2 separate regions of the Homo sapiens genome follow, and region 1 is linked to region 2. A link means that fine-mapping ties the variant in region 2 to the expression of a gene that starts in the linked region. Tissue or cell type: whole blood. Region 2 holds a variant in brackets; the other region holds the start of a gene. All regions are shown on one strand. Distances are between the middles of the regions.

Evidence for each region. PIP is the estimated chance that this variant, and not a neighbour inherited with it, causes the effect.
Region 1: PIGG starts here. The variant in region 2 is fine-mapped to the expression of PIGG in whole blood (INTERVAL, PIP above 0.99).

Annotation. Positions count from the first base shown.
Region 1 is chr4:496,199-501,854 of GRCh38, reverse strand. It overlaps PIGG (phosphatidylinositol glycan anchor biosynthesis class G (EMM blood group)), which reads right to left and starts at 2,645. Exons shown (of 13, transcript NM_001127178.3): 1 at 2,366-2,645; 2 at 1,254-1,459. The coding sequence starts at 2,519. It overlaps ZNF721 (zinc finger protein 721), which reads left to right and starts at 2,699. Exons shown (of 3, transcript NM_133474.4): 1 at 2,699-2,799. RefSeq lists enhancers at 1,684-2,547, 2,505-2,984, 2,548-3,413.
Region 2 is chr4:601,868-607,523 of GRCh38, reverse strand. The region is part of intron 1 of LOC124900162 (a long non-coding RNA gene); the gene reads right to left. Among named protein-coding and RNA genes, the nearest start is that of PDE6B, 21 kb to the left of the region's middle. The variant T/AT (reference allele first, on the strand shown) is at 2,703.

The sequences.
Region 1 (5,656 bases), 110 kb after region 2:
TTTCTATCCCTCCAATTAGAAAGTAAGCTCCATGAGGACAATGCTGTCTTGTTCTTCACTGCCTCCCTCCTGTCTGGAACAGTGTGGCACACAGTAGATGCTCAATAAATATTGCTGAAGGAAGTCACATCACATTGAAATGCGGCAGAGAGAGTAAGAAATTCAAGGAAAAAGTCAGTGAGTGATATGGCACTGTGCTTCCTTCAGTCTCAGACTGCTTTCATCCAGTGAACATCTGCCAAGCATCTGCAAATGGGGCTGCCCCCAAGCCTTAAATCAATAAGTAGCTCCTTCTCACCAAATAATGTTTCACATGATCAACAACACAGCTAAGGCTCCGTCAGAGACTTTATGCCACGCTCACATGCGATACACTCACACACTTCAACCCCTCTGCTCCTTTCTGTCCCCACCTTTATTCATCCTTCCAGTCTCAGTTTAAATGCAATTTCCTCAGCCAGGCTTTCTCACCCACTAATCATCACATCCTGTTCTTTCTCATCATGCATTAACCACACTTTACAACTGCATGTTTTCATATGCTCCTTTGTTGAGTGGCTGTATATCTAAAGACTAAAAGCTACATGAAGGCAGAGATACTATTTTTTCCCCAATTGCATACCCATTGAAGTATCACCACATAGTCGTTGCTCAAAAGTTTTGAGCCAATCAATAAAGGCTTACTTTTTTCTTTACCCACGGTTCTTGGGAAATGCACTATGTACTTCAAAGCTGCTGTCAGTAGGCTGGACACCTGAAGGATATGGTGGAAACAGTGGTAATTGTTGAGGCCGGAACATACTGATTTGATCATTATGTATACTGGTGGATAATTTTGGAGAAGTCACATTTAACTTATCTGAGTTTGCTTTCCTATCTATAAAGTCTAGAGACTGAACTAGATTAACTCTAAAGGCTCCTTCTAAGATTGTAAATGACCCAGTGACGATTAAAGAAGAAAGCAGGTCACCAAGAATGGCATATCTTGGGGTAGGTTAGCCTGGATGATCTTGCTCTAAATCTTTTATATTTGCCATGAAGCATGAGCTTTGGCTACTTGACATGGGGCACAAATGATGGGTCTCAGTTCCATCCCGTGTGAGGCTCCTTCAACATTCTATTGCCCCAGCCAACTGACAGCACAAAATTTCCACTTTCTTAAAATTGCAACTCCAAGCGAAAGACTACAGAGACCCCCTCTAAATCTTCAAAACAGCCAAACCATGATTCATAAAACATTAAGGCAAACTTACCTTGATTCGAGGCATAGTAACTGTAGGTGGCTTTGCTTCAGCCACAAAACTGTGAGATGCTCCTTTTTCCACAAGGTAAGTTGTGTAGGGCATAAATTTCACACCCTTTGACCCAAACACAAAATCATCTCTCAAGGCATCTATCAGAACAATAACAACTTTACTGAAGAGAGGTGGTGGCAGCGTGGTCCAGTTAGAACTGGCTCCTAAGTGTTTGAAAGAAAAAAAAGGAAATTGAACTCTAAACTTTCCTTAGCATCAAGCACCTTCACAATCTAGCTTCTACCTACTTCTCCAGCACATACCCTGCGATATCTACATAACCCAACCCAAAAGGAGGCGACTTGTACTTGGTAGGTAGTGCTGGGGGGAAAGGACGGGGGTTAACAGGAGTAATCTTAGGGACCCACAGTAGCAAGCAGTGAATTATCCTCAGTATGGTGAAGAGTACTGGGGTAGGAGAATCCCTACGTAAGGGTCCTGGAATGGGACATTTAGGGAGCTTGACCTAAAACGCAGAGCTGCAGCTACGGGATGGCTGGGCGTTTACATACTGCGTTTACATGGTCAGCGGCTGGCGATGTGTGCAAGTGGTCCAGAACCAGGGCGCCTTTACTTGCTGTATATGGCTGGGTAGGTGAAGCCTAGGAAGAGGCCTAACGCAGAGAGGCCTTAGCCCCTAGGCAGGGAAAACATCTTGGAGGAATATAAGAGACCAAAACGCGAGGGGATCGGCAGGGGTCTTATCTGTTGTGTGCTAGGGGGCAAAAAGGGCGCCTATAACGGGGAGTGACCCAAAGGCTGCTCAGGAAAGGGGCGGGAGCTCTGGACGAGTAGAAGTGGAGAGGCTGGATCCCAGGTATGGACACAGCTTACTTTGTGGTGATCAGGAAGGAAGGTCGAAGTGGGGCCAGTAGAGGTGGTTGCCACAAAGTTGTAAGAATACAGAAAAGAGACGCTGGAGCGGTTAAAAAAAATTTCTGAGGTGGGGACCATAATGGAAGAGACCACCGGGGAGCGCCGAGAAGAAATCCGAGCAGCGAGGCTCAGAAAAAAGGTCTTCTAGGGGATGTGGGGTCAGGGGAGCGGAGACGCCGGGGAGGGGTCCGTACCAGCCGAGGGTTCGGGCGCTGGGGGCTCCGCTCCGTGTTCCGCTCTGGCAGAGGAACGAACGGGAGCCGGGAAGAATCCCCGAAGGAAGACCGCGATCCCTAGCACCTCGATCGCTACGCAACAGGTAGCGAAAGTCCCGGAGCCCAGCCGCATCGTGGACACGCTAGGCTGGATGCGGAACCGACCCCACCTGGAGCCTCGCCCTGCTGCAGCCGCGCTTCCGGCTCCAGGTAGCCGCCTCTAAGCAATAACGCCAGGCCTTATCGTCGCAGCGACAGTGGCGTCACGTCCGCCGGCGCGCCACAGCAGCGCGTCACTTCCGCCAGCCCGCCACAGCGGGGCGTCACCTCGGACATACGAACAGCGGGCGGTGTTCCCGGCTCCGTGGGGCCGTCTTCCCGGCGAGTCCGCGACGGTCGCCGCCCACGGCGAGGTACGAGGTTTTAAAAAGTTTTTAATTTGGAAGGCAGGGTGCAGTGGCTCACGCCTTTAATCCCAGTACTTTGGGAGGCCGAGGCGGGCGGATCACGAGGTCAGGAGATCGAGACTATCCTGGCCAACATGGTGAAACCCCGTCTCAACTAAAAATACAAAAAATTAGCGGGGCGTGATGGCGGGTGCCTGTCGTCCCAGCTACTCGGGAGGCCGAGGCAGGAGAATCGCTTGAACCTGGGAGGCGGAGGTTGCAGTGAGCCGAGATCGCGCCACTGCACTTCTGCCTGGCAACAGAGCGAGACTGCGTCTCAAAAAAAAAAAAAAAAAGAAAATTCAACCCAATACCTCAGACAACTGGTAAATATCTTAATGATTAACTTCGTTTTAAAGATGCCACATGAGTGAGATCATGAGGTATTTGTCTTTCTGTGTCTTATTTTGCTTACATGATATCCTCAGGTTTATCCGTGTTGTGGCAAATGATAGGGTTTCATTCTTTTATTAGAGCTGAATAGTACTCCATTGTGTATATATACCACATTTTCTTTTTTCTGAAAGGAAAATCTTGGGGCCCCAAAATTACTAAACTAAGGGAAAAGACAAGCTCGGAACTGCTCAGGACAAACCTGCCTCCCATTCTATTCAAAGTCATTCCTCTGCTCACTGAGATAAATGCATATTGATAGCCTCCTTTGGAGAGGCTTATCAGAAACCCAGAAACTGCAACCATTTGTCTGTCACCTACCTGTGACCTGGAAGCCCCCTCCCTGTTCCAAGTTGCCCCCGCCTTTCTGGACAGAACCAATGTCCTTCTTTTTTTTTTTTTTTTTTTTTTTTTCTTTTTCTTTTCAGATGAAATCTCACTCTGTCGCCCAGGCTGGAATGCAGTGGCGTGATCTCAGATCACTGCAACCTCTGCCTCCCGGGTTCAAGCAATTCTCCTGCCTCAGCCTCCTGAGTAGCTGGGATTACAGGTGCGTGCCACCACGCACGGCTAATTTTTGTATTTTTAGTTGAGACGGGGTTTCACCATGTTGGTCAGGCTGTTCTTGAACTCCTGACCTCGTGATCCGCCCGCCTCGGCCTCCCAGAGTGCTGGGATTTACAGGCATGAGCCACCGCGCCCGGCCTGTTTTTTTTTTGTTGGTTTGTTTTTGAGACGGAGTCTCGCTCTGTCGCCCAGCCTGGAGTGCAGTGGCACCATCTCCGCTCACTGCAAGCTCCGCCTCCCGGGTTCACGCCATTTTCCTACCGCAGCCTCCCGTGTAGCTGGGACTACAGGCGCCCGCCGCCACGCCCGTCAAATTTTTTTTTTTTTTTTGTATTTTTTAGTAGTGACGGGTTTCACCATGTTAGCCAGGATGGTCTCAATCTCCTGACCTCGTGATCCGCCCGCCTCTGTCTCCCAAAGAGCTGGGATTACAGGCGTGAGACACCGCGCCCTGTCCGGCCTGTTATTATACATATGATTGATATCTCGTGACTCCCTAAAATGAATACAACCAAGCTGTGCCCCGACCACCTTGGACCCACGTCGTCAGGATCTCCGGAGGCTGTGTCATGGGCGTCCTTAACTTTGGGAAATAAGCCTCCTGAAATGATTAAGACTTGTCATTTTTCTCGATTGACATTGATAAGCACTGAGAGATCCTCAGTGAAGGTAACCCGGCCTGCAGCAGTTCGCCTATTGATCCTCGGTATTGGCTTGGCACCTTATTGCCCAAACTGGTAGGATGATTGCTGAAATCTGGGACCTTGTTCCTCCAGGGATCCCTGATCTTCCAACGTTTTTCGGTGGGGGGTCTGAGGTTTATTTGCTGTTAAAAAACTCCTTTTTTGGGAGTTCCCACTCGCTTCATCAAGGAAGGCAAGCCTGCCTGCTTCTGCATCGACAGATAGCCGTCTTCAGCTTGAGCCCCATCACTAGGTAAGAAAATTGATTTGGAATTTTGTCTTGCAAATTCTTTTTAAATGACTAAAGATAACATTAACAACCAGCTGGTGTTTATTTCTGCTTACACTTAGAGCGTTCAGAAGTCATAGGCTGGGCGCGGTGGCTCACGCCTGTAATCCCAGCACTTTGGGAGGCCGAGGTGGGCGGATCACGAGGTCAGGAGATCGAGACCATCCTGGCTAACACGGTGAAACCCCATCTCTACTAAAAATACAAAAAATTAGCCGGGCGCGGTGGCGGGCACCTGTAGTCCCAGCTACTCAAAAGGCTGAGGCAGGAGAATGGCGTGAACCCGGGAGGCGGAGCCTGCAGTGAGCCGAGATCGCGCCACTGCACTCCAACCTGGGCGACAGCGAGACTCCGTCTCAAAAAAAAAAAAAAAAAAAAAAAAAGAAGTCATGTATTTTGTGTGATCATTGTTAGTTTTGCTTACCTGTTCTGTTGTTTGTTTCTGTCTTGTTGGGGTTTTTTTTGTGTGTTTTGGTCCTTTCCCTTATCGGATTTGACCAACTCCAAACCCTCTAGCTCATGAGTGTAGAATCTTCCCCTCTGAAGAAATAAGAGCACCTGCCTCCCCTCAGCTTTTCGGGGCATTCTCAGACAACTGAGAATCACGTGAGGGTGTCTGGGAGGAATGCTGCCTAAGACATGCAGTGGGTCTAAATAGGTTTCCCCCCCAGAAGAACATACTTAGAGTCTAATCTCAGCTGGCAGGTGCATATAAGGAGGTGACCCCTCCCGCACCTTGAGCCTCTGACACTGTGCCAGGTGGCCACCACACGGGTGAACCCAACCAGTTCGGGGGGTAACAGCCCTGAAAAGCTAGGTCTGCAAGCAGCACGTTTTGGGTCCGACACACATTCTGACTTGGCGAAATCCGAAGGGGAACTCTAAATTATGG
Region 2 (5,656 bases):
TCAAGTGATTCTCCTGCCTCAGCCTCTTGAGTAGCTGGGATCACAGGCACCTGCCACCATGCTTGGCTAATTTTTGTATTTTTAGTAGAGACAGGGTTTCACACCATGTTGGTCAGGCTGGTCTTGAACTCCTGACCTCAGGTGATCCACCCGCCTTGGACTTCCAAAGTGCTAGGATTACAGGCGTAAGCCATCATGCCCGGCCAGAAATGTGTTTCTTAAATAGTAAGACTTGGAAGTCGACACAACTCCTTGATCCAAGGGCTGCAGAATGGATGTTGTTTTAGCAGCCACGAAAGCAGCATGACTCTGTGTATGTCTCTGTTAGAGCTCTGGGAACTAGGTGCATTGTCAACGAATATACGTATGTATTTTCAGACAGGGTGTCACTGTCACCAAGGCTGGAGTGCAGTGGTGTGATCCTGGCTGACTGCAGCTTTGACCTCCCTGGCTCAAGTGATCCTCCCACCTCAGCCTCCTGAGTAGCTGAGCCCACAGGCATAAGCTACCATACCTGGCTAATTTTAAAATTTTTTATAAAGATAGGGTCTCCTTATGTTGCTCAGGCTGGTCTCAAATTCCTAGGCTCAAGTGATCCTCCTGCCTCAGTTTCCCAAAGTTCTGGGATTACAAGCGTGAACCATCATGCCCAGACTCATAGTAATATTATGAAAAGAATCTTGTTTTTCCCGAGCAGTAGCTCTCAATAGTGGGCTTAATGGATTCCGTAAACCATCGGGAGCACATGTGCTGCCATCCAGGCCTTGTTGCTCCATTTCTAGAGCAGGCAGAGTGCATGTGGTATAATTCTTAAGGGCTCTAGGATTTTCTGAATGGTGAATGAACACTGGCTTCAATCTGAGGCCACCAGCTGCATTAGCCCCTCACAAGAGGCTCAGCCTGTCCTATGAAGCTTCGACGCCAGGCACTGGCTTCTCTCCAGCTATAAAAGTCTCAGATGGCATCTTCTTCCAACAGAAAACTATGTTGTCTACATAAAAGGTCTGTGTAGCGTGGCCACCTTCATCCATGATCTCAGCTGGATGTTCCGGGTAACTTACTGCAGCTTCTCCATCAGTACCTGCTGCCTCCCTTGAACTTTCACGTTATGGAGATGATTTCTTTCCTTAAACCTCACAAACCCATCTCTGTTTGCTTCAGACTTTTTCTTCTGCAGCTTCCTCACCTCTCTCAGCCTCCACAGGATTTAAGAGTCGGGGCCTTGCTCTGGATTAGGCTTTGGCTTAAGGCTTTGGCTCCAGCCTTCTTGGCACCAAGGGCCGGTTTTGTGGAAGACAATTTTTCCACAGACTAGGCGTCGGGGGGAAGGTTTGGGATGAAGCTGTTCCACCTCAGATCATCAGGCGATAGTTAGATCCTCACAAGGAGTGCGCAACCTCGATCCCTCGCACGCGCAGTTCACAGTAGGGTTTGCACGGTTCTGAGAATCTAATGCTGCTGCTGATCTGACTCTCCTGCCACTCACCTCCTGCTGTGTGGCCTGGGGGTTGGGGACCCCTGGCTTAAGGGAATGTTGTGGGTGGTTTGATCATTCCATCTAGGCCATTAAAACTTTCTCCCTCTCAGTGATTTGGCTGTTTCGCTTCCTTATTCACGTGTTCCACGGGGTAGCACTTTTAATCTCCTTCAAGAACTTCTTTTTTGCATTCACAGGTTGACTCAGTGCTTGGTGCACGAGCCTAGATTTCCACCTGTCTCGGCTTTCAACATGCCTTTCTCACTGAGTCTAATCATGTCTAGCTTGTGATTGACCATTCACTTGAGGACTTAGAGGTCACTGTAGGGTTATTGGTTGGCCTAATTTCAAATTGCTGTTTCTCAGGGAATAGCGAGGCCCAAGGAAAGGGAGAGAGGGAGGAATGGCTGGTCCATGGAGCAGTCAGAACACACACAGCACTTATCAATTAAGTTCACTTTCTTATATGCGTGGTTCATGGAGCCCTAAAACGATGACCAAGTAACTCCAAAGATCACCAACCACAGACCACCACAAAAGATACAATCATAATAAAGTTCAACACATTGCAAAATTACTAACGTGTGACTGAGAGATGTGAGCGAGCACACGCCGTTGGAAACACGGCACAGGTGGGCTTGCTCAACGCGGGGCGGCCACAGACCTTCAACAGTCAAACATGCGGTATCTGCAAAGTGCAGGAAAGTGAACACAATAGGCCGGGTGCGGTGGCTCACACCTGTAATCCCAGCACTTTGGGAGGCCGAGACGGGCAGCTCACGAGGTCAGGAGATTGAGACCACCCTGGCTAACACGGTGAAACCCCGTCTCTACTAAAAGTACAAAAAATTAGGCGGGCGTGGTGGCGGGTGCCTGTAGTCCCAGCTACTCGGGAGGCTGAGGCAGAAGAATGGCGTGAACCCGGGAGGCGGAGCTTGCAGTGAGCTGAGATAGCGCCACTGCACTCCAGCCTGGGCGACAGAGCGAGACTCCGTCTCAAAAAAAAAAAAAAAAAAAAAAAAAGGTGAACACAATAAAACAAAGTGGCCCACATCCTTTAAAATCTATGTCCTTATTTAAAATTGGGTTGTGGCTGCACATGGTGGTTCATGCCTGTAATCCCAGCACTTTGGGAGGCCAAGGAGGGTGGATCATTTGAACCCAGGAGTTTGAGACCAGCTTGGGCAACATAGTGAGACCCCATCTCTGCAAAAAAAAAAAAAAA[T/AT]TAGCTGGGTGCGATGGTGTACACCTGTAGTTCCAGCTACTTGGGAAGCAGAAGTGGGTGAATTGCTTGAGCCTGGAATGTTACGGCTTCACTGGGCTATGGTGGTGTCACTGCACTCCAGCCTTGGCAAGAGAATGATACCCTGTCTCTAAACAAAAAAACCCAAACCTCAAAACAAATTGGATTGTTTGTTTACTTATGACAGCAGTTTCTCCTTATCTGCTGGGTATACATTCCAAGACCCCCCAATGAATGCTTGAAACCATGGATAGTACTGAACTCTGAACTTTATACATACTACATTTTTTCCTATAAATATATACCTATGATAAAGTTTAATGTACAAACTAGGCAAAATAAGAGACTAAAAATAATAATAAAATAGAACAATTATAACAGTAAACTGTAATAAAAGTTACGTGAATGTGGGCTCTGTCTCTCTCTCTCAAAATATCTTGTTGCATGTAATATTTTCCGACCACAGTTTACTGCTGGTAACTGAAACCACACAAAGTGGAACCACAGACAAGCGTGTGGTGGGGGGTGCTGTAATGCATTTTGTTCTTTATATATTCCAGACATAAATCCTTTATCAGATATGTGATTTTAAAATACTTTCTTCCAGTCTATGAATTGCCTTTTTATTCTGTTAACAGTGTCTTCCCAAGAGCAGATGCTTTTAATGCTGATGAAGGCTGGTTTATTGTTTTTATAGATGATGCTTTTGAAATCACAGCTAAAAAATCTTTGTCCACTCAAGATCACAGAAATGTTCGCTTAGGTTTACTTCTAGCAACTGTGTAGTCTTAGGTGTGACATTTACGTCTGCAGTACATTTTGAGTTATTTTTATATGTGGTCCGGGTATAGATCGAGGCTCTCTTTTTCTTTTTGCACATGCATATTCAATAGTTCCAGCATCACTGGTTGAAAAGACATTTCTTTCTCTACGAATTGTCACATTTACATATTATACCACTTCACATACAGTGCAAGAACCTTACGTCAGTGTTATGGATTGAAATTGTGTCCCACAAAATTCATATGTTGAAATCCCAGCCCCCAGTACCTCATGACGTGATCGTTATTTGAAGGTAAGACCTTTAAAGAGGTAATTTAGGCCGGGTACGGTGGCCCGCACCTGTAATCGCAGCACTTTGGGAGGCCGGGTACGGTGGCTCGCGCCTGTAATCCCAGCACTTTGGGAGGCCGAGGCAGGCGGATTGCCTGAGCTCAGGAGTTCAAGACCAGCCAACATGGTGAAACCCTGTCTCTACTAAAATACAAAAAATCAGTTGGGCGTGATAGCGTGCACCTGTAATCCCAGCTACTCGGGAGGCTGAGGCAGAAGAATCGCTTGAACCCGGAAGGTGGAGGTTGCAGTGAGCTGAGATCATGCCACTGCACTGCAGCCTGGGCAACAGAATGAGACTCAGTCTCAAAAAAAATAAAATAAATAAATAAATAAATTTTAAAAATAAAGAGGTGATTAAGTAGAAATGAGGCATGAATGTGGGGCTCTAATTCAACATGGCTGGCATTCCTATAAGACGAGGAGACCAGGTCACACAGAGTCCCCTGGGTGAGCCCGCGTGGAGGGAAGACCATGTGAAGAGGCAGCAAGAGAGCAGCTGTCTGCAGACCAAGGAGAGAGACTTCTGCGGAGACCACACCCGTCAACGTCTTCATCCCAGACTCTCAGCCTTCAGAATGGTCAGAGGACACATTTCTGCTGCTGAAGCTACCTAGTCTGTGGTAGCTTGCTATGGAAGTGTTAGAAAACTAACAAGGAAAGTGGGGGTCTGTGTGTATTTGGGGGATCAAAGCCTTTGTGCAGAGGCCCCTGACCCTCCACTCTCAAGGCCTGGGTAGGGCTGAGGAATGACCGCATCTGTGCTTCTACAGGCTTGCATCGCCCTGGCAGCTGGAAGCCGGTTCTGCGGTGTTAGGTGAACACAGGGCACCTGACTGGTCCAAGCACGCCACCCAGAGGCAGCCTTGGAACTGCACCTGCTGGGCAGGACCTGGGCTCTACCTGCGTCCTTCCTGACAGCCCATCAGAGTCCATGGGATGGATGCACCTGCTCGTGCACCTGCCTCCAAGGTCTGTGGGCTAGGTGGGCCCAAGGGGGCCTGGTGTTGGCACAGAGCCTCTGGAGCCAGGAAGATGGTGGCAGTGTTTGGTGGCTTCTCCTGGCCTGAACATGGCCCCCAGGGCTGGGGTGGGATAGGATGCCCTCATCTGCAGGTCCTTAAGCGGTTGTGATGACAAGAAGTGGGAGTGGCTGCTCAGGGCCCCTGGGCAGCTGGACCTTGGGGACAGTCCCTGGGCTGGGAAGGCGCTCAGAGTGCACGTCTTAGCAGCCTGGGGTGCCTGCTGCCCTTGACGGGGACATGGGTGGGTTTTTATAGGGCAGGGGAGTGGCCGACCTTGGGTAGAAAGGAGCAGAACGAAGGCCGGAGGAGGGAGGTGACTGGGCAGAGGCAGCCCCAGTGGCCGGGCCGCTTGCCCCCGTCTGTCCTGTGGGGCTCCCTCACGTCCCTTCAGTCTGCCCCCACTTTGGCGCCTTGAATTTGAGAGAGGCCACGTGTTCTTGAAGCCTAGTGGGATCCTCGGCAACTGCTTTTGAAATTCCTCTTTCACAACCAAGGTGGCTGGGGCAAGCCATCTCCCATCAGCATTTTGGAGAACAAATGCTTTCGCTGCCTTGATCCGCCCAGCAGGGCGGCTGCCAGTGCCCAGGTCTCAGCAGAAGCAAGGCAGAGGCGCGTGTGGAGACCAAGGGGCAAGAATGGCCCAAGCCTCAGCCTTGTCCACCCCATCCTTCTTCCATGCTGTGGCCAGTGAGATTTTTCTGAAACGACCGACCTGGTCCCGTCATTTTCCTGATCAAGACATCCTAGCAGTCTCCCAGTACTTTCTGGGAGTCTCCCAGTACACAGAAGATGTCCCTG